4 linked regions of the Homo sapiens genome follow. The protein of the gene in region 1 interacts with the protein of each later gene in a biochemical or structural test. Each region holds a gene or a part of one and is shown in the gene's direction. Other genes may lie near its edges. The genes, in order: EPAS1, UBE3B, F12 and EGLN3.

What was found.
Region 2: the proteins of EPAS1 (region 1) and UBE3B form a complex in vitro, tested with the Homo sapiens proteins (one study listed by BioGRID).
Region 3: the proteins of EPAS1 (region 1) and F12 form a complex in vitro, tested with the Homo sapiens proteins (one study listed by BioGRID).
Region 4: the proteins of EPAS1 (region 1) and EGLN3 form a complex in vitro, tested with the Homo sapiens proteins (one study listed by BioGRID).

Annotation. Positions count from the first base shown.
Region 1 is NC_000002.12:46,384,380-46,387,206, forward strand, and holds the end of EPAS1 (endothelial PAS domain-containing protein 1), read left to right. Parts: intron 1-129; coding exon 130-281; 3' UTR 282-2,318; downstream 2,319-2,827.
Region 2 is NC_000012.12:109,515,605-109,522,640, forward strand, and holds part of UBE3B (ubiquitin-protein ligase E3B), read left to right. Parts: intron 1-1,160; coding exon 1,161-1,280; intron 1,281-5,543; coding exon 5,544-5,720; intron 5,721-5,836; coding exon 5,837-5,947; intron 5,948-7,036. UniProt on the Homo sapiens protein: E3 ubiquitin-protein ligase which accepts ubiquitin from an E2 ubiquitin-conjugating enzyme in the form of a thioester and then directly transfers the ubiquitin to targeted substrates.
Region 3 is NC_000005.10:177,406,544-177,413,437, reverse strand, and holds the start of F12 (coagulation factor XII preproprotein), read left to right. Parts: upstream 1-3,873; 5' UTR 3,874-3,910; coding exon 3,911-3,967; intron 3,968-4,334; coding exon 4,335-4,392; intron 4,393-6,894. UniProt on the Homo sapiens protein: Factor XII is a serum glycoprotein that participates in the initiation of blood coagulation, fibrinolysis, and the generation of bradykinin and angiotensin.
Region 4 is NC_000014.9:33,948,061-33,956,077, reverse strand, and holds the start of EGLN3 (prolyl hydroxylase EGLN3), read left to right. Parts: upstream 1-5,003; 5' UTR 5,004-5,325; coding exon 5,326-5,682; intron 5,683-8,017. UniProt on the Homo sapiens protein: Prolyl hydroxylase that mediates hydroxylation of proline residues in target proteins, such as PKM, TELO2, ATF4 and HIF1A. Target proteins are preferentially recognized via a LXXLAP motif.

The DNA of each region.
Region 1 (2,827 bases):
ACAGACACCACTGAAGGAGCAGAGTGAAATTAGGGCTGCTCTATTGGTATCCCCCAGTCACAAAGAAGTAGACACTTTTCCAAATGTTCGATTTAGGCCTTTAAGTTATGGTACCAACCCTTCTTTCAGGCATGGCAAGCCGGCTGCTCGGGCCCTCATTTGAGTCCTACCTGCTGCCCGAACTGACCAGATATGACTGTGAGGTGAACGTGCCCGTGCTGGGAAGCTCCACGCTCCTGCAAGGAGGGGACCTCCTCAGAGCCCTGGACCAGGCCACCTGAGCCAGGCCTTCTACCTGGGCAGCACCTCTGCCGACGCCGTCCCACCAGCTTCACTCTCTCCGTCTGTTTTTGCAACTAGGTATTTCTAACGCCAGCACACTATTTACAAGATGGACTTACCTGGCAGACTTGCCCAGGTCACCAAGCAGTGGCCTTTTTCTGAGATGCTCACTTTATTATCCCTATTTTTAAAGTACACAATTGTTTTACCTGTTCTGAAATGTTCTTAAATTTTGTAGGATTTTTTTCCTCCCCACCTTCAATGACTTCTAATTTATATTATCCATAGGTTTCTCTCCCTCCTTCTCCTTCTCACACACAACTGTCCATACTAACAAGTTTGGTGCATGTCTGTTCTTCTGTAGGGAGAAGCTTTAGCTTCATTTTACTAAAAAGATTCCTCGTTATTGTTGTTGCCAAAGAGAAACAAAAATGATTTTGCTTTCCAAGCTTGGTTTGTGGCGTCTCCCTCGCAGAGCCCTTCTCGTTTCTTTTTTAAACTAATCACCATATTGTAAATTTCAGGGTTTTTTTTTTTTTGTTTAAGCTGACTCTTTGCTCTAATTTTGGAAAAAAAGAAATGTGAAGGGTCAACTCCAACGTATGTGGTTATCTGTGAAAGTTGCACAGCGTGGCTTTTCCTAAACTGGTGTTTTTCCCCCGCATTTGGTGGATTTTTTATTATTATTCAAAAACATAACTGAGTTTTTTAAAAGAGGAGAAAATTTATATCTGGGTTAAGTGTTTATCATATATATGGGTACTTTGTAATATCTAAAAACTTAGAAACGGAAATGGAATCCTGCTCACAAAATCACTTTAAGATCTTTTCGAAGCTGTTAATTTTTCTTAGTGTTGTGGACACTGCAGACTTGTCCAGTGCTCCCACGGCCTGTACGGACACTGTGGAAGGCCTCCCTCTGTCGGCTTTTTGCCATCTGTGATATGCCATAGGTGTGACAATCCGAGCAGTGGAGTCATTCAGCGGGAGCACTGCGCGCTATCCCCTCACATTCTCTATGTACTATGTATGTATGTATTATTATTATTGCTGCCAAGAGGGTCTGATGGCACGTTGTGGGGTCGGGGGGTGGGGCGGGGAAGTGCTCTAACTTTTCTTAAGGTTTTGTTGCTAGCCCTTCAAGTGCACTGAGCTATGTGACTCGGATGGTCTTTCACACGGCACATTTGGACATTTCCAGAACTACCATGAGATGGTTTAGACGGGAATTCATGCAAATGAGGGGTCAAAAATGGTATAGTGACCCCGTCCACGTCCTCCAAGCTCACGACCTTGGAGCCCCGTGGAGCTGGACTGAGGAGGAGGCTGCACAGCGGGAGAGCAGCTGGTCCAGACCAGCCCTGCAGCCCCCACTCAGCCGGCAGCCAGATGGCCCCGCAAGGCCTCCAGGGATGGCCCCTAGCCACAGGCCCTGGCTGAGGTCTCTGGGTCGGTCAGTGACATGTAGGTAGGAAGCACTGAAAATAGTGTTCCCAGAGCACTTTGCAACTCCCTGGGTAAGAGGGACGACACCTCTGGTTTTTCAATACCAATTACATGGAACTTTTCTGTAATGGGTACAATGAAGAAGTTTCTAAAAACACACACAAAGCACATTGGGCCAACTATTTAGTAAGCCCGGATAGACTTATTGCCAAAAACAAAAAATAGCTTTCAAAAGAAATTTAAGTTCTATGAGAAATTCCTTAGTCATGGTGTTGCGTAAATCATATTTTAGCTGCACGGCATTACCCCACACAGGGTGGCAGAACTTGAAGGGTTACTGACGTGTAAATGCTGGTATTTGATTTCCTGTGTGTGTTGCCCTGGCATTAAGGGCATTTTACCCTTGCAGTTTTACTAAAACACTGAAAAATATTCCAAGCTTCATATTAACCCTACCTGTCAACGTAACGATTTCATGAACGTTATTATATTGTCGAATTCCTACTGACAACATTATAACTGTATGGGAGCTTAACTTTATAAGGAAATGTATTTTGACACTGGTATCTTATTAAAGTATTCTGATCCTACCACTGCTGGTGGCTCTTATTTCCTGTGGATTTATCATGGGCTATGCCAATGTAAAGTGAAGTATTAAGTCGTTCATATAAATTGAACATTAGCACAGACCTTTATGAGACTACTGAAGTGAGCTGATAAGACTGGTGAAGGAAAGACTGTGTTAAATACTTGGTAGTTGCCTAAGTCTGAAAATTCATATTGTATCTTCCATATTTCTGCAAGTATTTTTCTATCTATCTATCTATGTGCCTCGGGGCCATTTTTTGTATCCTATGGGGAACCCAAGGAAAGAAGTCATGGTCTCTGCTTTCAGAAAATTACATGAAGTCGTTTGAGAGCCACACTGTTCTGTATATTCACATAGTGCACTTTGGGATGGAGGTCCCGAAGGGAAAGGGGCAGCCTGGGCATTAGGACTTCAATTTGGAGGCGGCTGGGCTGGAGTAGGGTCTTCCCAGGTAGACTGTGATTGGGAAGAGCAGAGATCCCCTCGGCCAGAGACAGAGCACAGTGAAAG
Region 2 (7,036 bases), on another chromosome or scaffold:
GTGATCCACCTGCCTCGGCCTCTCAAAGTGCTGGGATTACAGGCGTGAGCCACTGTGCCCAGCTGTTACTGTTCTTATTTGTATTTAATAAAGTTCTTGACTTTGGGGGAGATTCCCATTTTTAAAAAAACAGCTGTGGTTAGATTTATGTATTCATTCAGCTGACTTGATTTAAATGGTATTAGGGTGCTGATTCTTGAGCCCAGGATGGGGCAAAGAGTCATGCTCTTTCTAAATAGGTTTAGCAGAATCTTAAGAATAAGGAGAGAGGGTTCCTTTCAAGCAGTAATTGAGAAATATTACTGGTGGGACTGTGGTGGGCTTGAAGGCACAGAGGAGGCAGGTTGAAAGGTCAGGGAGCTTTATACTGTAGGGTCATTTTTAAATTTTCTGACAGTAGGAAAAGTTATCTTTGAATTATTTTTGTTCTTAGGATTCATAATATTGATTTCCCTTAAAGCAGGCACAGCTAGATAAAGAAGGCTCTGTAACTTGTTCTGCCACCAAGTTTTTATAGTGGATTATTGACTGAATGAGGAGGATTTTCTTTTTTCTTTTTTTTCTTTTTTTTTTTTTTTTTTTTTTGAGACAGAGTCTCACTCTGTCCCCCAGGCTGGAGTGCAGTGGCACGATCTTGGCTCACTGTAACCTCTGCCTCCTGGGTTCAAGTGATTCTCCTGCCTCAACCTCCCAAGTAGCTAGGATTACAGGTGCATGCCACCACACCCAGCTAATTTTTGTATTTTGTATTTAGTAGAGACGAGGTTTCACCATGTTGGCCAGGCTGGTTTTGAACTCCCGACCTCAGGTAATCCGCCCACCTGGGCCTCCCAGAGTGCTGGGATTACAGGCGTGAGCCCCCACGCCCAGCCTTGAGGAGGATTTTCTCGTGGGCCATTCCTAGCTGGACCCTAGCTGCAGCCAGACCACTCTTTCCGGAACGTTTTTTGCTTGTGTATTCAACAGTATTTCTAATTCCCACAAGTGTTCCAGGGAATGCTTCTGTTCTCACAGGACACTTCTAACTGGTAGCACATGTTAAGGCATCCCATTCTGCTTGCATCTCATCTAACTTCAGTTTCAGTCATTTTTGCAGAGTGTTTTTATGGAATCGTCAGTTTGCTGACCCTGTTTTCTGATCCCGCCTTTGTTCATTTTAGAGAGTTCTACTGTTTCGAACCATGGTTACCAAGGAGAAGGAGAAACTGGGGCTGGTGGAAACCAGCTCTGCCTCCCCGCATGTCACTCACATCACCATCCGCCGGTCCAGGATGCTGGAGGTGAGTGTGAAGCCTATGGAATCCTACCACAAGGAAGTGGGCCCTGCAACATGGAAGCTCTTTAGTGGACGGTCTCTGGCTTTTGAACTGTTCCTGTTACTCCTTGATCTGAAATTAAGGCTCTGGGAGCAGGAAAGGGGTCATTTGTCCTGTTGACTGCTCTGAACAGCTGCTTGGTTAAACATGTTCTCATTGCTGGAGACCCAGCAGTGTCTTCCTTTACCCCATGAGAGCTAGAGTATCCTGGGCTAGAGCATCCACCTCTTCATGTCCCTTTGAAATGAGGACAGGAGCTGCCAGTCACAGCGGCTGCACTAACACTCTCAGGTCTGTGCAAACTCCATTTGTCCCAGCAGGCACTTTGCTGAGACTCTCAACTGTGATTGTAGTATATAAGTGGAGTGGAGGTGTTACATTTACTGAGTTATGTAGAGAAATACTTTTATCACAGAGCCAGAAGTTCTTTGTAGACAGAAACTTACAAGATACCACTGAAGTGACCCACCTGAGCTAAATCCGTTGTCTGGAACTACCACTATACGGTGACTCCATGTAAATTAGAGATAGGTACCCAGTCCTCATATGTCAGAAAATTGTCACAATACATTGGTTTTGTTGGTACAAGACCGTGCCTCCAATCTGCTGGAACATGGTTGTCATAAACTTAACTACCTACGATGTCTGTGTTATCCATGCCACAGCCTCCCCTGGGCTTGTATAGTGCACAGCCTACCCATACATGCTCATCCTGCCAGCGATAGAATTGGTGACTGAGCCACAGTCCCCATTCCCTGGAGAGGCTTGGCTTCATTTATTTGCCATGTTTGCACTTCAGACCTTTTTATCACACTCCAGCTGCAGTTCCCCATGAGCCTGTCCTGTAGTGTAGGACAGTCACGGGATCCCCTGAAGTATGTGGCCAGATAGCCACCCCCACCAGCAGATGGCTTCTGGCAGCAGCTGTTCCTCCTCACGTGTCTTCATTTTCTCCCTCGGTGCATCGTACCTTGTTTGTGTCACTCCTTACTGGAGAGCTTGTTTGAGTGCCCCTGGCCACTGGTGATCAATGCCGAGAGCTGCTAGGAAGGCAGTGTGTGCTGAACAGTGGATGTTTCTGACATTCTTCAAGGTAGGCATAAGGAATTGAAGGGCCCACTGGGCCCTGCAGGCCATGTGAAGGAGTAAAGCTGGCTGAGTGGGTCTCATTACAGGAGCATTCTGTTTGCGTGCTAGACATATAGAAATAATCTCCACTTCTGCGCCCTCCTGTTCTTGAAACAGCCCTCTTGGTCTGTGTAGCTCTACTTGAGAAAAATAGCCCCCACGAGTGAGTTGATAAATGGCAACTGACACCCAGCCTCAGTGTTGGGGAGCAGTTGGAAGCACGTGCCTCCCCAGAAGAGGCCACCGCCACTCAGCTCCTCCAGACCTGCCATGTGACGAGGTGGGCTCCATAACGCTCTTGAGTTTTTAAGAGAAGGCCAAAATTCAGATCTTCCATGTTGTGAACTAATTGAACTCTGTAAAGTGCCTAGAAAGTCAGATAACACCTGTCTTTCCACCAAATTCAACCTGTGGGCCACCCATTTGCAACCTCTGCTTTTGATTCAGAAAAAGCCCAATTGTGTGGTAGGGACTCCCTTTCTAGCACTTCCCTCTGCAGACCCAGATGCATCTCCCTTGTCTCTAGAAATCCTCAGCCCCACTACCCATCACGCCTACCCAGACGTGGCCAGCACCCACCCATGGGAAGAGTCTGGGGTGGTATAGATTGCAGTATCTCCTGAGAGTGGCAGAATCCGACTCCCTTCACAAATATCATTGCTTATTGGAAATTCACTTGACATCCCAGTTACTCTGGCCCTACTTTTTAAAGCATATCCCTCAGGGATGGCAAAAGAGATGTCTGTCTTAGGCTTTAGGCAAAGTCCCTTTTCCTCTTTACTTTCCACTGGAGAAGGGGAGAGGGTTGTTCATTGTTATCCCAGTTGTCGTAATCTGGTGGCTTGGTTATTAGAATATGAGAGCCCAGGGGCCTTTGCTGGATTTGGACACAAGGGGGCGTCAGTAAGCTGATCTCAGACTCATGCTCTCCTGGGCATTGTTTCCTTTTTTATGGTTAGTATTGAGGGCTATGCTTCTCTATTAGGCTTCCAGATATTAAAGTCCTGTAGGAAGGCTCTTCTTCCCAGAGGGTGAGTTTGGGCTGGAACTCTAGTATTCAGAACCGGAAGGATCCTCAAACATACTCTTACCCAGTCCTTTCCCCTGTCTCTGTCAAAGGCAGAACTGAGGCCAGAGAACTTCAGTCAAGGTCACTTGGATATCAGTGATAGAGCTGGGCCTGGAAGCCAGGCATCCCTTTTCTAGCTCAGTATTCCCTGTGTGTGCATGTTGAGATGCAGTGAAGAAGAGGAACGCTGACTCACATTCACCTCCCAAGAGGCATGGATATAATCCTCGCATATCCACGCCAGTTCCCAGAAGGCAGGAAATGTATCACAAGAGGCAGTCCCCTCTAAACGTTTAAACAAAGAGGCTGGTGTGGAGCTGATCAAGCAAGACTGAGATTTGAATCCAGTAAACGCTCCTTGAGCTAGGCCATGTGCCACTTGCTTTCACATGTACCATCCCATTTCATCCACATAACCACAAACGCATCTACTAATGCGTGTGAAGGCTGGGGAGGCATAATTTTAAAGCAGGTTGGAGGAACTCCTGCAGGCAGACAGGAACTTGATGGAATTCTCCATCCGTTCTCATCTCAGTGCCAAGATAATTATCTTAAATTTAGGCAGAATGGTTTAAATGCTGTTACAGCTGCCTGTTGACTTCCTGTTTCTCCCTTTTGTCATCTAACTTAATGATTCTCAAACTTTATGTACATAAAAAGTCCTTCTCAGGTTTGCCTCCACAAAACTGTGCTCCTGTTCCCACATGTGACTTAGGGGTCTTGAGAGGTAATTTTCCCTTGCCCACTAACTTTGAAGCCTAACCCCTGAATCGGGGCACCATAGGATAGTCCTTTGGGGATCACTGGGTGAACATGGCAGGAAGGCAGCAAGGGTTCCCCAAAACAGGTCTCGCCACACTGGCATACTGCTCGTTTGCTTTGTGATGAGGGGACCAGACGGCAGCCGAGTGGATGCTGTGGAGACAGCCTGTCTAACCTGCGAAGCATGTGACAGTGTTACAGTTGTAGCTGAAAGGGAGAAATGTGGCATGGCCTTCATAGGACAGCAGGGTTGATTGGTCACTTGTTCCATCACAGTGTCTGAAGACATCAGTTTCACCTGGTGATTGGGCCTCTCAAGTCGGGCCAACAGACTCTTCCCTGGGCCCTGTGCTGTTCAGCACTGTTTTTATAGTCACTGCTCTGAAATAAAAACCTCAGCACCCCAAGTACTAGGAATGCATTAGATGATGGAACCAGAAGCCAGGAAGGCCTCAACAGATTAGAATCAAGAGACAAACTAAACAGATGATTTAGTAGGAGAACTCCAAAGTTGTGGTTCTGGGGCTGTGCATGTTGAGGTCTGGATGGAGTAGATGTGCTGAATGGCTGTGTCCTAACAGAGCTGACCACCAGCCAGAAGTCCAGGCCCAGCACCACCCCCACATCTCGGTCTCTGCTCCCTGCGTTGATCCCTGCCATCCACCTGCTCTGCTGCCAATAGAAAGATCTGACAGAAAGTCAGCCCTGTTACTCTTTGCCTAAAACCTTCTGCAGCTCCCATTACCTTCAGGATGTCCCCTAAATTCCTCAGCATGACTTGCAGGCACTTCATGATTGGGAAGGCAGCGGGAGATGAGGGGTGATGGGTAATTCTTTTCATTTTACAGTGTTCTGTAGGTTTGATTTTTTTTTTTTTTCTTTTTTCTTTTTTTTACCATGAGCTAAAGATACTCTTAGCATTGAGAGAGAGAGAAATGTATCTTGTCCCGGTTTCTTTCATCCTTTGTCTGATGGCCAGGAGCTTGTCATGACTCATTTTGTCTAACTTCCCCATCTCACTGCTCTGTCCCCTTGAGGTCAGTCTCCCCTTGCCAAGGAGTGATACTGTCACATCCCCAAATGAATCTTTGCTTTTAATCAGCACTCATTCAAAAGCAGGTGAGAACGGCTCCTGTCATGCATCCACGTTTCATAATTTGCACATTTGGTAATGATGCTGGGAGAGCTTCGCACAGAGGAGAGGGAACCCCGAATTGTGTGCATAAGGCTTTGGGCTTCCTAATGGGCTGTAATTCTGCTCTTGGCAGGACGGCTACGAGCAGCTTAGGCAGCTCTCCCAGCACGCCATGAAGGGGGTCATCCGTGTGAAGTTTGTCAATGACCTCGGGGTGGACGAAGCAGGGATTGATCAAGACGGTGTTTTTAAGGAGTTCTTGGAAGAGATCATCAAGAGAGTTTTTGACCCAGCACTCAATCTGTTCAAGGTATTTAAGGGGAGCAACAGCAGGGCTGACAGCAGCCAGATTCAAGAAGTGAAGAGCTGGGCTTGCTCCTTGCAAGGCACTTGACCTCTGCCTCTCCCCGTCTTTTTGCCTTGCAGACAACCAGTGGGGATGAGAGGCTGTACCCCTCACCCACATCCTACATCCATGAGAATTACCTGCAGCTCTTCGAGTTTGTGGGGAAGATGCTGGGGAAGGCTGTGTATGAGGTAGGAACGTTAAGAAACAGAGAAATGTAAAATAAAATGTTAACGGTACCATGGGCTTCTTCACATACACATATGTGATCAGGCTTGGCCATGTAAACTGTCACTAGGATACAAGCGAGGACAGGGGCAGGAACCAAGGTTTGTTGTACACCAGTGCTAGGTACTTTGCCTGTGGCATCTCATCTCATCCCATCGACAGCCCTGTGACGGGGCTGCCACTGTCCTGGCTATTTAAGGATGGGAGACCTGAAGCTTTGAGGAGTCACCTGTCCAGAGTTTCGTTGCTAGTTAAGTGGTAGAGGTGGAATTTGAACCCAGGCCGGCCCAAGTCCTAAGGCCAGCCCTCTTCTTTCCTGAGGCATGAGGAGTGGTGTGCAGAGCCAGATGGCCACACGGAGGCTGGGTCCCCGTTGTAGGAGGGCAGCATTTTGTGGAGTTTGATAGTTTTAAAATCTTGTGTTGTTTGAGTGAGTGCTTCCCAGCCATGGCAACAGGACAGGACCAGCTGTTCCTAGTCAGCCGTGTGACCATGTGCCTTCAAGTTTCTTTAGTTTTTAAGCCGTGTTCTCGCATCAGTAAAGTGGAGATAAGAAAAGCCACATTCCTGGGTTGCCGTTAATGGTAAGTGAGGAGGGCCTTCTACGGTGCCCAGCCAGCTGCTCACACCAGGTGGATCGGAGCAGTCATCCTCACCTTACTAAGAGGAAGTGAGTCTGGGTTTCCACTCTGTGGCCTGATGGGGTCAGGGTGATGTGGCCCACACAGCTCCTGTCCATTGAAACCCCGTCCATTGAAAGCCAAGGTGGGACCACCTTCAGTGGGAAGTCACCGCCTGTTCCTTGGGAGAGTCCTGTTTCCCAGGAGGAAGGAAAGCTGCAGCACAAGCCCAGCCAGTCTGTGTGGCCTTCGCAGTGGGCTCCAGAGCTGCAGGGACCCTGCCTGGGTCTCAGGCTCTGCTGAGCTTCTGGCCCAAGCACGGAGGAAGCGAGCCACCTGGGCAGCACTCCTCGCATACCCCAGGAACCTGGAGAAGCCAGATGCTTTCCAAACAGAAAGAGCCAGCAGCTGGGCCAAGCTGAGAGGGAGGTC
Region 3 (6,894 bases), on another chromosome or scaffold:
GCATGGTGGCGTGGGCCTGTAATGGCAGCTACTTGGGAGGCTGAGGCAGGAGAATCACTTGAACCTGGGAGGTGGAGGTTGTAGTGAGCCGAGATCGCACCATGGCAGTCCAGTTTGGGCGACAGCGCGAGACTCCATCTCAAATAAATAACTAAATAAAAATAATAATAAAGTACCCTTTCACCACCACAGCTGGGGAGGGGTGATCACAAAATGAAACTGGGAGAGGAAGAGGAAGGGAGATGGATGTTGAACATCCAAATGACCATTAATGTCCACCTGACACCTCATCTCACACTCCCTACAAGGCACCTTATGCTCACCACATTCCCCATTTGACACGCTGCATTCAGGCTTCTGTGCAGTTGTATTACTCACTCTGCCTGCAAACCCCTACTTGTGGCGAAGACCTGTTCAAAAGGCCCCTTCCATGTAGAGGAACAGCTGCCTTCTCCCCAAGAGGAAGGAGCCAATGTGGGAGTGGCCTTAGGGCCAGGGTCTATACTCAGGAGCAATCAAGAACTGACAGAGCCAGGCATGATGGCATGAACCTGTAATCCCAGCTATTCAGGAGGATGAAGCGAGAGGATCACTTGCGCCCAGAAGTTCCAGGCTAGCCTGGGCAACTTAATAAGACCGAGTCTCTTTGAAACAACAAAAAAGGTGACAAAGGTAGTTTCGCTTTAATGACTCGTCAATATATCTAATAGTTTCACTTTCATCATGGAGTTAACAGCTGTCACGTCAATGACTTTGAAACCAGTTACCTTTGAAACCAGTGGTTGGAAAGGTGCCCCTCCTCTCCTGCCCTCCTCTTTCTGTGTTTCTGTTCCAAGAAGTCTTCCACAGCCTGCCTCTCTTCCAGCAGAATTAATAAATTGCTACACTCAGTCTTCATTTCCCATAAATTACTTTGTATAACTTAGGACTTTGTATAACTGAAAGTGACAGAAGTCCACTCAAATTGGTTTTATTGGCTCATATAACTGAGAAGTCTATTTTTTTTTTTTTTTGGAGATACAGTCTCAGTCTGCTTCCCAGACTGGAGTGCAGTGGCACAATCACGGCTCACAGCATTTTGGACCTCTGGGCTCAAGCAATCCTCCTGCCTCAGACTCACAAGTAGCCGGAACTACAGGCACGCGCCACCATGCCTGGCTAATGTTAAATTTTTTTGGAGAGATGGGATCTCACTATGTTGCCTACATCAGTCTGGAACTCCTGGGCTCAAGTGATCCTCAAGTGATCCCCAGCCTCCCAGAGTGTTGGGATTACAGGCGTGAGCCACTGTGCCTAGCCATAACTGACCAAGTCTTAAGGATACTTCTAGTTTTAGGATGTAGGCTCTCAAAGTCATGAGAAATCAATCCATCAGTACTAGTTCTCAAATGTCGTGTAACAAATCACCCTAACTTGTGGCTTAAAGCAACAACATTTAATGATGATTTATCACAGTTTCTGATGGTCAGTTTTGCCTTGAGGTCTTTCATAAGATTGCAAGCCAAATGTCAGCGAGGGCTGCAGTATCCACTTCCAAGGCAGCTTATTCATGTGGCTGTCCAATTGGCACTGGCTGTCAGCAGGGTGCTTTCCTTTCTCCCTACATGGGCTTCTCTGCAGGGCTGCATGTGTGTCCTCACAACACAGTGGCTGGCTTCCTCCAGAGTGAGCAACCTAAGAGACCGAGGCAGAAACTGCAATGTCTTTTATGACCTGGGCTTGGAAGTCCAACACCCTCACTTCTGCCATATTTTTTTTTTTTTTGAGACAGTCCCTGTCGCCCAGGCTGGAGTGCAATGGCACAATCTCTGCTCACTACAACCTCCACTTCCTGGGTTCAAGCGATTCTCCTGCCTCAGCCTCACGGGTAGCTGGGATTACAGGCACACGCCACTACGCCCGGCTAATTTTTGTATTTTTCATAGAGATGGGGTTTGGCCAACACGTTGGCCAGGCCGGTCTTGAACTCCTGACCTAGAGTGATCTGCCTGCCTTGGCATCCCAAAGTGCTGGGATTACAGGTGTGAGCCACCACACCCAGCCACTTCTGTCATATTCTGATGGACACACAGAACAGCCCTAACTCAATGTGGGAAGACACCATACAAGGGCATGAATCCTAGGTGGTGAGGATCAATGGGGGCTGTCTTTGAGGCTGTCTACCACAGCATCTTTCCATCCTTCCTGCCCTGTTTGCTTTGCTTTTCCTATGTGTAGGCTTCATTCTCAAACAGGCCCTCCCTAGAGAGTGACAAAGGTGATCATCAATGTGTTCAGACCCACATGCTCTGTGCTTAGTAACCCCAGTGCAACTTTTTTGCTTTCCCAAAAGTTCTGGCAAAAGTCCCAAGCTAGCACTTTAATTGGCCTAAATTGTGTATATGCTTATCTCTGAACCAATCACTGTGGATTAGAGATGTCATGCTCTGATTGACCAGACCTAGGCCACATCTCTAGCCCTAGCTCTGAGGGTAGAGTTGGCAGCACTAGAGCCCATGGAAGAAGTAAGAGAGGAGTCGTTGCTAAAGGAAAAATCAAAGTGTCATTACCGAACCAGGACAGATGCTGGGCAGCACATGTGCACCCCGTCTTCTTCTCATGTTCCAGCTGCACATCTTAGTGCCCCTTGGTTTAGCACTTTTCTCATTAAATCATTTGCTTTCTTGCCTCACTTCCTGTGGTTGGTAGAATGCTAAGATGGCCCCAAGATCTCTACCCCTGGTGTTTGCACACCTCCCAGTTATTCTGTCAAACATGAATGTAGATGCTTCTGTGAAAGAATTTTGCACATGTAATTTAAGTCCCAAATTGTTTGACCTTAAAATAAGGAGAATGGCAGGGCCAGGCATGGTGGCTCATACCTGTAATCCCAGCACTTTGGGAGGCCAAGGCGGGCAGATCACGAGGTCAGGAGATCGAGACCATCCTGGCTAACACAGTGAAACCCCATCTCTACTAAAAATACAAAAAATTAGCTGGGCGTGGTGGCGGGTGCCTGTATTCCCAGCTACCCAGGAGGCTGAGGCAGGAGAATGGCGTGAACCCGGGAGGCGTAGCTTGCAGTGAGCCAAGATCGTGCCACTGCACTCCAGCCTGGGTGACAGAGCCAGACTCTGTCTCAAAAAAAAAAAAAAAAAGGAGAATGGCTTTGGTGGGCCTGACCTAGTCAGGTGAGTTCTTAAAAGGCGACACATGGCCCGGTGCAGTGGCTCAGGCCTGTAATCCCAGCACTTTGGGAGGCCGAGGCGGGTGGATCACGAGGTCAGGAGATCGAGACCATCCTGGCTAACATGGTGAAACCCCGTCTCTACTAAAAAGACAAAAAATTAGCTGGGCGTGGTGGTGGGCTCCTGTAGTCCCAGCTACTCGGGAGGCTGAGGCAGGAGAATGGCGTGAACCCGGGAGGCGGAGCTTGCAGTGAGCGGAGATTGCGCCACTGCACTCCAGCCTGGGCGACAGAGCGAGACTCCGTCTCAAAAAAAAAAAAAAAAAAAAGAAAATTAAAAGTGGGTATTGTTGTAAGATGCTGAGTTTATGGTAGTTTGTTACATGACAATAGAAAATGAACACACTTCACAGTGGACTCCAAGATCCCCATGATCTTTGATCTCCTTAACCTCCTGATCTCCACAGGACCCAGAGCATAAGAATGTCCCTTCTTCTGCTTCCAGTCCCACTATCTAGAAAAGAGAGGAGGAGCCCAGCTCTTCATTTCACCCCCACCCACAAACTCCCAACTTTCCGGCCCTCAAGGGGTGACCAAGGAAGTTGCTCCACTTGGCTTTCCACAAACAGCCTGTGCCCCACCAGGCTCAGGAGGGCAGCTTGACCAATCTCTATTTCCAAGACCTTTGGCCAGTCCTATTGATCTGGACTCCTGGATAGGCAGCTGGACCAACGGACGGATGCCATGAGGGCTCTGCTGCTCCTGGGGTTCCTGCTGGTGAGCTTGGAGTCAACACTTTCGGTGAGTGCTGTGGGAACCAGGATTGTCCCAGGATTGTTCTGGGGGGTCGCTATCACAGCCATGAGCCATGGCCTCTGCTCATGACCTGTGGGTCCAGGTGACTAGGAGGCCTATGTGGAAAGGTGAGGCCAGCCCGGAAGGCCCAGGCAGAGGAGACAGACAACCAGACTGGGTGGATACAAGGGCACAGCCTGCATTTCTGGGGGAGATGGGCCTTAAGAAGACAACGGGGGGAGGTAGAAAGGGTTTGGGTCTTGGGAAGAAATCTCTGCATTTCTGGGCTGTGAGAGGAAGCTGCAGACTAGCAACAGATCGGTGGCAGGCTATGACTTATAGTCAGTTCCCTGCCTTCTTCTCTCCCTTGTAGATTCCACCTTGGGAAGCCCCCAAGGAGCATAAGTACAAAGCTGAAGAGCACACAGTCGGTAAGTGGCCTGGCTCCTCCTCCCGGGAACCCTTGGGTGGGGATGTGTATGGTGCAGTGTGTGCAGTCTCAGGGCAGTCTAGTCTAGTGCCTACCTGGTGCTAGGTCTTATGCCCATGGGCACTAGAGTGATCGTGAGCTGTGTGATCCTTGAGGGCAGGGTATGGGCTGTGTCTAAGTGCCCACGAGCCTGGCTCGGAGCAGGTGCTTGAGATATGTGCTGCTGGCGCCATCACACCTGGGCTCCTGCCAGCCTTCCTCAGTTTCCCCAGCTTCTCCCCTTCTTTTCCTTTCCCCAGTACGTCTCATGGGCATCATTCATGCCACACAGAGGCCAGGGCCTTCAATGGGCAAGGAAGGATCAAGAGCTTGTCTCTGGCATCTGAATGCCTCTGAAGCCCAGCTTTATCACTTATGAGCTGGGTGACTCTGGGCGAGGGATTTGAGTTCTCCAAGCTTCAATTTCCCCTTCTGTGAAACCAGGTTGATAACAGTAAACCTCTTAGGGTTGTTGAGAAGGGAAACCCATGTGAGGTATTCAGCCCATCACCTGGTGCATGGAAATGCTTTACAAATATTAGCTTTTATTATGAAACTACCTTTTAGATGAAGGGTACCTGCCATTTCCCCCTTCCTCAAGCTCTGCCATAGCTCCCCATTGCTTTCATTCTTCCAGACACTAAATTACCTACATGCCAGGCATGGTGGCTCATGCCTGTAATCCCAGCACTTTGGGAGGCCAAGGTCGGTGGATCATGAGGTCAGGAGTTCGAGACCAGCCTGGCCAACATGGTGAAATGCTGTCTCTACTAAAAGTACAAAAATTAGCCAGGCATGGTGGCATGCGCCAGTAGTCCCAGCTACTCGGGAGGCTGAGGCAGAAGAATTGCTTGAACCTGGGAGGTGAAGGTTGCAGTGAACGAAGATCACACCATTGCACTCCAGCTTGGGCAACACAGCAAGACTCCGTCTCAAAAAAAAAAAAAAAATTTACCTAGAGTGTGGCACATAGCAGGGCCTGTGAACCAGATGGACCTTACCCTGGTGGGCCTGACTTGGTGGGGTTGAGTCTCTAAGCATGGCGTTGAGGCCCAGCACATTCCAACCCTGGACTCCCTCAGCCTCCTCTCTTCACCCCACACCCAAAAGTTTCTCCTCTCTCTTGCCTTACCCAAACTTGGTGCCCTATCCTTGCCTAATCCCCTGCCTAAGGTCCCCCTCCTCTCTGTCCGTCCATCCCATCTGCATCTTTTTTTTTTTTTGAGATGGAGTCTCGCTCTGTCCCCTAGGCTAGAGTGCAATGGCGCGATCTTGGCTCATTGCAACCTCCGCCTCCTGGGTTCAAGCGATTCTCTGCCTCAGCCTCCCGAGTTGCTGGGATTACAGGCACACAACTTCATGCTCAGCTAATTTTTGTATTTTTTAGTAGAGACAGGGTTTCACCATGTTGGCCAGGCTGGTCTCGAACTCCTGCCCTCAGGTGGTCCGCCCACCTTAGCCTCCCAAAGTGCTGGGATTACAGGCGTGAGCCACCGCGCCTGGCCCCCATTTGCATCTTAAAGGTCCATCTCAGATCCATTTCCATTTACTGTCCTAGTTCTGGTTTGGTCCTTGGCAAGTGCACTTTGCCTTGAACAAAATAGTGGCAAAAGCTTATTGAGCAGGTACTTTGTGCCAGACACTGCTCAGCATTTCATGGCATTATCTCATGAAGCCCCACGACAATTCCTCTGAAGAAGACACAGGCAATTCTCATTATTCGCGATGGTTATGTTCTATAAAATCACAGTGAACATTGAACTAGCAAACAGTATTAGGTTCCTGTGAGCCTCTGGTCACAACATTTTCATCAACCAACAGCATATAATCTGGTTTTATGTATGATTCTGTTTAAAGACATTTTATTTAGTATATGTGTTGCTGATTCATCAATGCTAAGCTGATGGCACTATAGCACACACCTGAATCAAGTGTCTAACACACGCTTTCTCCCTAAGGTAGCCTTCTTGTGCTTAGGAACTACACAGCTCTTCAGCAGGAGGCTCAGAGGCCATTTCCAAAAGCCAAATCCCCAGCAAAAGCACAAAGTGTGAAAAACGTTGCACTAAGTAGACTGAGAAGGACACTCATTCAATAGGAGAGCTGAAACAAGCAGCAGCAGCGTGACGCCTTGTTGAACCTTAACTGGGAATGTGCAAATTTTTCACTGCTCTGTGCATGCCCACAAATGGCCATGAAAACATTTCAAGTATTGACTTGGGAGTTACAAATAAAATTCAGCAAGTAGGCACATTCTCAATGTAGAACCAGAGAAGAATGAGGATCAACTGTACTATTATTACTGCCGTTTTACAGATAAGGAAACCAAGGCTCAGATCAGAGTGGTTAACAGTGACTTCAACATTCAACAAGTATTATTAAGTGCCTACTTTGTGGCAAGTGCTCTTCCTGGCCTTGGGACTGAAGACTTACCCAAGGTCACACAGCTAGCAGGTTGTGGAGT
Region 4 (8,017 bases), on another chromosome or scaffold:
TTTTAGCACAGTACTAAGTGTTGCAAAAATGTTTAATGGATCAATAAATAAGGTTGCCTTTGCTCACAGTGAAGTCATGCAAAATAATGATAAACCTTCTGATGATATAGGATGGTAAAAACACACACACAAAATATTCAGATACCAGCTAGGAGGAAGAGAACCTCAGGTATGGCAGTACTTTGATGGAAAAGAAGACATGTAGACATTTTTCATCAGAAATAAAAAAGGACACGATGGAACCTTCCCATATTTCTGTTGGAAATGTAAAATGGTACACCTATTGTGGAAAACAGTTTGGTGGTTTTCCAAAAAGTTAAACATAGGCCGGGCGCAGTAGCTCATGCCTGTAATCCCAGCACTTTGAGAGGCCAAGGCGGGTGGATCACTTGAGGTCAGGAGTTTGAGACCAGTCTAGCCAACGTGGTGAAACCCCATCTCTACTAAAAATACAAAAATTAGGTGGGCATGGTGGCGGGCACCTGTAATCCCAGCTACTTGGGAGGCTGAGGCAGAAGAATCGCTTGAACGCAGGAGGCGGAGGTTGCGGTGAGCCGAGATGGTGCCATTGCACTCTAGCCTGGGTGACAAGAGCGAAACTCTGTCTCAAAACAAACAAACAAACAAACAAACAATTGGCTGGGTGTGGTGGTAGGTGCCTGTAATCCCAGTTACTTGGGAGGCTGAGGCAGGAGAATCGCTTGAATCCGGGAGGTCGAGGTTGCAGCGAGCCGAGATTGCGCCATTGCACTGTAGCCTAGGCGACAAGGGCAAAACTCCATCTCAAAAAAAAAAAAAAAAAAAAAGAAAGAGTTATAAAATTACCATATGCCCCCAAAACTGTATGCCTAGGTCTATTCTCCAAAGAATTGAAAACAGGTACTCAACATACTTATGCATGCATGTTAATAACAGCACTATTATAATAGCCAAAAAGTGGAAACAACCCAAATACTCATCAGTGGATGACTGGATAAACAAATTGTGGTATATCTACGTAGTGGAATTATCATTCAGCCATAAAAAGAAATAAAATCTTGGTAAATGGTACAAAACATCATGCTAAGTGAAAGAAGCCAGTCACAAAAGGTCACAGGTTATATGATTCCATTATTAGGAAATATCTAGAATGGGCAAATCCATAGAGAAGGCAGATTGATGGTTGCTAGGGGCTTGGGAGAGGAGGCAATGGGGAATAACTGCTTAATAGGCACAGTTTTCTTTTGGGGTGGTGAAAATGTTTTGGAACTAGAGAGAGGTGGTGGTTTCATAACATCGCGAATGTAGTAAATGCCACTGAATTGTTCATTATAAAATCGTAAATTTTATGTTTTGTGAATTTTACCTCGTTAAAGTCAAAATGCATACATATATAAATAGGACAGTGTTACAGTTGAGAAGGCAGAAGCATCCCATGCTTCCTCTTCCACTCAACTGAGACTCTTTGGTTTCGTCATCTGTAGGAAAATGAAGTTGAACTAGGTGACCACTAATATCTCTTCCAGTTCAAATTCAAAGGTAAGAAAACTCAACATTTTTCTTTCTCCCCTACTCCTCCACATGCTTGAAAATGACTGCATCTATACTGCAGATGCACACTGGAAGACAATGTTGCTGTAATTAAATTACAGGGAAATTAATTTGCTTTAGTTATTATGGAAAGGTATTTTAATATTCATTATTATGACACAAATTAGTGGACAAATAACTAAAGCAAATGCACTTTAACAATTAGCTTGGGTTTTCCCTCTCTGATGCTCAGACCCACAGCCTGTGCCTGGCTCCAGCCTGTCTGTGTTCCTCCGTGCAATCACACACTCTGATTTTTGCCAGTCACAGTATCTCTGATTCCTCTGCCAAATGCAGTGCTGGCAGCCCTAAGCTGATCGGGAGGTCCTTGATTGATTAATGAGTGCCCTTGCCAAGCAGGGATGGTGCCAAGGGATTGAATTCCTTTCTAAACTGCCCATGCTTTACAACCAACATAATCTAGAACAGTTGTCACTAGGACTCACTTAGACTATTGCTCTAGTTATAACGAGTTACAATTTTACTGTGAAATTATTGAAATATTATTTGAACAGTAAACTAAATTTACCCACTCCTGGGATTTGAAGTCTTGGGTCAACATGTTCATTCTGGAAGGTGGTTGTATAATTTTCTGTATTTTACTGACCACCACCCCTCTACCAGTGATTGCAGGTTTCCATTCCTTTGTAAATTCCCTCCTTATCGTTCCTAGGAATAAGGTGTATCTACAAAAAGCCTCCAGCTAGAAACATTTCAGCTAGTTACTAAGGATTATCTGTCACCTTCCCCCTTTTTGATTCTGTCCCTCTTCAGGGATATCTACTTCTGAGATTTACACAGTCCCCAAAGCTGCAAAATGCACGACCCAATGCCAACCAGGGTCTACATTCAGGCTGTCTTAGACCAGGTTTCTCCTGGTCACCCCATTATCCATAGTGCCCCTGGAGGAGATCACTGCAGGAGGCAAAGCAGTTCCTTCTGTGCAGGGTTCAAGCAGAAGTAGAGAGGAGGGCTTTCCTCCTTTTTGGTACTGCACTCCATTTCACTCCTTGCTGCAATTTTTTTTTTTTAAGGCTAAATTTCACTTTTGTCACCCAGGCAAGAGTGCAGTGGCATAATCTCAGCTCACTGCAACCTCCACCTGCTGGGTTCAAGTGATTCTCTTGCCTCAGCCTCCCGAGTAGCTGGGATTACAGATGCCTGCCACCATGTGTGGCTAATTTTTGTATTTTTAGTTGAGGCGGGGTTTCACCACGTTGGCCAGGCTGGTCTCAAACTCCTGACCTCAGGTGATCTGCCCACCTCGGCCTCCCAAAGTGCTGGGATTACAGGTGTGAGCCACTGTGCCTGGCCCTTTGCTGCAATTTAACAGTCCTCCAGTTTTCACTTTATGTCTCTGGCTCCCACCACTCAAATGTCCACTGCTCAGATAGACAAAGCTGAGAGACAAATGCCCTGTAGAACTCCTAAGTTCTCCCTCCACTGGCCTCTAAGCTTTTGTGCTGGGTCAGGCTAATTTGCTTGACTCTTTTCCAGTGACTTCTCTTTGGGGAGGCTCCCCAGCCCCTTTTGCAAATAGATCCTTCCAGATAAGCCCAGACATACTGAATCCCAAGTGGAGGCTGCTATGGCTCAGGGTCAGACATTGAGTTCCCAGTAACTATTTATTAGCCATTCACTATGTGCTAAACACTGGGGTTCCAAGGATGATGGTCTCCTCTCATCATGGAGCTGCCTTGGGAATTTAGACAAGAGCTCTTTGAGCAGTGATGGCCTTTACCCCAAGGAGGGGTACCTCCTGCTCAAAGGTAATACCAAAGGTGCCAACTAATCACTGACTTGGCAGAGAACCTCTCTCAATATAACTAGAAGTTTCATCAAAGTTTCTTAAGCACTCCACCATTGACTGCTCTCCTTCACCATCCCCCAGGTTCTTACTCAACCACGTGCCTCTGTCTGCTTCTTTCCAACTTGTAGCAGCACCTTTCCTCTTCTATTCTTTGTTCTTGTCCTGGATGTCATTCCCTTTCTCCCCTCAGAGGCAGAGAGGAGAGGGCTGCTGGAGGAAGAAGAAAAGTGAAAAAGCTGTAGAAATTTGCTTCCACAATAAACAATACCCGAAAAACCTGTACATTCTTTTCTTCAACTTAAATGAAGAACCCAAGTGTGCACTCATATGAAGTAAAAAAGGTGCAAATAGGCCGGGCACGGTGGCTCACGCCTGTAATCCGAGCACTTTGGGAGGGCGAGGCGGGCGGATCACCTGAGGTCGGGAGTTCGAGACCAGTCTGACCAATGTGGAGAAACCTCACCTCTACTAAAAATACAAAATTAGCCAGGCATGGTGGCGGGCGCCTGTAATCCCAGCTACTTGGGAGCCTGAGGCAGGAGAATTGCTTGAACCTGGGATGCGGAGGTTGTGGTGAGCAGAGATCACACCACTGCACTCCAGCCCAGGCAACAAGAGCAAAACTCCGTCTCAGAATAAATAAATAAAAAAAATACAGTTCCTTTTTTTTTTTTTTTAAAGAAGTACAAATAGCTTTGCATGCAATTTATGAATTTTTTCCTGATTCTGATCGCTGGTGTTCAGTAGGAAAGGGAATCAAAACTCCATAAAGCAAATCAGCTTATCTGTAGATAACCAAAGTCTTCTCAGTGGTGTCTGTCCCTCTTGTGAAAGTACAGCTGCTTGTGGGAAAAGTGAGAGACCTAGAATACAGTGTATCTTTTGGGGGACATACCTCTGACTGTTACAGAAGCATGTGATTAATTTGGAAGGTAGAATTTCGGAACATCATATTTTAATAGGAAGCTTGAAAGGTAAGTAGAGGAAAACATCAAGCAAAGCAAAATACACCATTTGCAGAGTTCAATCAGATATGACTCAGCATTTCTTCATTGTGCTCATCCCCAGCTCCTCAAGCACATAGTGCCTTGCACACAGTAGGGGCTGAGGGAAATATTCGTTAATGCATTAATTTTAGTTAAAACTAGATACCTCCTAATCTCTCAGTGGCTTGAACTGGGTCAAACAGCAGAGGAATGGGGTAAATAAGGAAAGACACCCGGTAAAGGTAGAACAAGACCACTGCTTAATAAATATATTCGTTTTTGGGGTTATTATTTTGCTCAAAAGTCTATGAGGTGACCAACCCAGAATGTGGCAGTTAATTCTATTTACATTTTCAGTGTGGGATCCAGGTTTTCAAGTTTGTTATGTGATTTTATGCAAAACAATATGCAAATCCAGCGCATTCTAAAAATTCAGTCTGCTTTCCAGCCGCTCCCCTGGTCACAAACAACTAAGGTTGGCGCCGGGCTCTCTGGGATCCTTCGCGGAGGGGCAGAGCAGGCGGGGGTGACTGGCAGCGGGGCGGGGGAAAGGGCGGTCCCGGAGGCGGTCCCGGGGCGGAGCCCGTGACGCGCGGAGTCGGCCGGCTTAAGGGCCGGACCTCAGCGTCTCCCGGAGTCTGGCCGCAGTCGCGGCAGTGGTGGCTTCCCATCCCCAAAAGGCGCCCTCCGACTCCTTGCGCCGCACTGCTCGCCGGGCCAGTCCGGAAACGGGTCGTGGAGCTCCGCACCACTCCCGCTGGTTCCCGAAGGCAGATCCCTTCTCCCGAGAGTTGCGAGAAACTTTCCCTTGTCCCCGACGCTGCAGCGGCTCGGGTACCGTGGCAGCCGCAGGTTTCTGAACCCCGGGCCACGCTCCCCGCGCCTCGGCTTCGCGCTCGTGTAGATCGTTCCCTCTCTGGTTGCACGCTGGGGATCCCGGACCTCGATTCTGCGGGCGAGATGCCCCTGGGACACATCATGAGGCTGGACCTGGAGAAAATTGCCCTGGAGTACATCGTGCCCTGTCTGCACGAGGTGGGCTTCTGCTACCTGGACAACTTCCTGGGCGAGGTGGTGGGCGACTGCGTCCTGGAGCGCGTCAAGCAGCTGCACTGCACCGGGGCCCTGCGGGACGGCCAGCTGGCGGGGCCGCGCGCCGGCGTCTCCAAGCGACACCTGCGGGGCGACCAGATCACGTGGATCGGGGGCAACGAGGAGGGCTGCGAGGCCATCAGCTTCCTCCTGTCCCTCATCGACAGGCTGGTCCTCTACTGCGGGAGCCGGCTGGGCAAATACTACGTCAAGGAGAGGTCTAAGGTAGGACGCGCTCGGCGCCCTGCCGCAGCTGCTCCCGCGGGGACGGGAGGCACTCGGAGTCCGTTGTATGTCGACTTCCCAGGGCCGTAAGCGAACTTTGTTTTTTAACCAAGAAGTCAGCCTGGTTTGTCTCTACTCGCTGCTTCCCCCCACCCCTCGCCCCAGCTCCTCTGAGCGAAAGTCAACGTTAAGGGGCTCAGGTGAACCATGATGATGACCTTCTGTTGACTTTGAAATATTGGCTCTTGTGGGTGACAAAAGCCAGACAAGCTGTGGCTGTGGTCCGATTTTAAGACGAGGTTCTCAAAGATCCAAAGGAGGGAAAGGGTATTGGAAACACTGTGTATCATCTGAGACACACGTGTCCTCATGATCTTAAATGCCTACTTTAAAGCCACCTAATACTGCCCTTCATTGTGGTCAGAAGAGATTTCTACAAAAGCACTCAGAATTCTGGAGGCAGTTGTGATTTTGCCATGTGGCAGTTGGTTTGTGGAGTTGGGCAGGTGTGAAAGGGTAAAACTCCACTTCTGAATGCTGCTTCTGCCCCCTGGGACCCAGCACATTGTTAGACCATCTTCTTGACTGAAAATTCTCTCCTGATGCTGAGCCCTGCACCACCACCTTCCTTTTCCTAACTATGAATTGATGGCAAAGTCCACTCAAAACAACCAGTTAAGTGCTCACGAGAGAGTAGTCAAGCACCTCCAGAAAGAAACCGGGTTTTTGTTCACATAGCAGGAAGTGACTCCCTGGGTGGTAATTTATCTTGGAAACACAGGTAGATTGGCAGAAAAACGGGAACATGTAGGTACCGCGATGTTGGTGCATGTCCATTACTTTGGGATAGGCTTTCTCAGTCTTTCCTCAAATGATAGTTGAGCCAGTTTTCCAGTGGCAATTCTGAGTGACTTGCGCTTGTCTTATGGTGTGGTCAAGGGACGTTCAGAACTACGGAAAACTTTTACTGAAACAGCGAAGCAGAGTATACCGGCATGAGAGGGAAGATGAACACTCACCTATGTACCACTCTTTGACAATAAATATAGTATTTCTCAAATCAGTCTCAAGACTGATCCTGTCTCAGAACAGACCATTGTTCTCTCATTTCTCTAATACGCTGAGAGGAACACTCTGAATAAAGGCTAAGTGGTGAGGATTGGAAACGTGTGGGAGTGAAGGGGTGGAGGTGGATGAGTGCAGTGGGGAGTCACAGTTTGCCGTACAACTTCCAAGCCAAGAGGCCATGAATAGAATATCTGAAAGCATCGTTATTAATGCACCCAAGTAAAGTAAATCTTAGAAGATACTGCTTTCTAAATTTTACTTTGGGGAAAAAAATTCCGCGTGAGCTGAACTCTGTAGGAGATTGATGCTAAAGTGTTTCTTTATTCTTCTTCCATCATGTTGGTGGTGGATTAGTCACTCGTCTTTGACTAGTTTGATTTTTGCATTAAATGACCTTGCTGTCTTCTGTGGTGGAGGTGTGTCGGGGAGGGGAAGGGTCAGCCTCAGTGTTGCTGAGATGCTGGTAGTTTCTACCTGGAAGAGCAGACGGCTTCTTATTGGGTTTTTAAATGTTTCTTGTAAATTTAGGTGTTAGGAGTTTTTCTTCATCATTCTAGGAGCAGAATTTGCTCTGAGGGAGGTCAGGATTAATTGGTATGGAAAGAGGCCACTAACATTGAAAGTTAAATATTTTTATTTAGCTTTGACTTAATGGATAGGGATAGGGTTTCAGACTAGAATTTAACTCAAATGGAAGGAAAAACACTGTGTAAGTTAGGGTAAGGGAAAGAAAGATCCTGTAGATATGATTCATCAATTTTAGGTTATCTTTTGGGTGGAATGAAAAACTTTCCAGGTGACCCTGTCAGAAGGTGATCGTGAATTGAAAATAAAATTTATCCTGTCCCACCCCCAGATTTCCAGGTTTACTTTGGCTGGTTTGTCACAAAGCTCCCTGCCCTTTAGATAAATCACCTTTCGATTGGAATATTCCCTGGCCAATTAGAACCAAATGCAAACCAGGCTTGAGCAAACAACTAGTGTAGTTAAATTTTTTTTAAGTGTGCTTTGCTTGTATACAGAAGTCTCCTTAGTGATGTCTTGTGGTCTTGGGTTTCTTGTTTGAAGTTCATTATTAAAGTCATGGTAGAAACACTTTCCATTTCTACATGATTTTTATTGGTTTCACATTAATTTATCCTTCTTTTTCTTCACTCACTTTTTATCCCTCAGCTGAGCTCCTCATTTTGTGCTGCTTTCCAGAGCAGTGATAGAGACCCAGTTTACCGGTTCATCCTTCACCCGTGTTTTCAAGAAAAACTAAAGT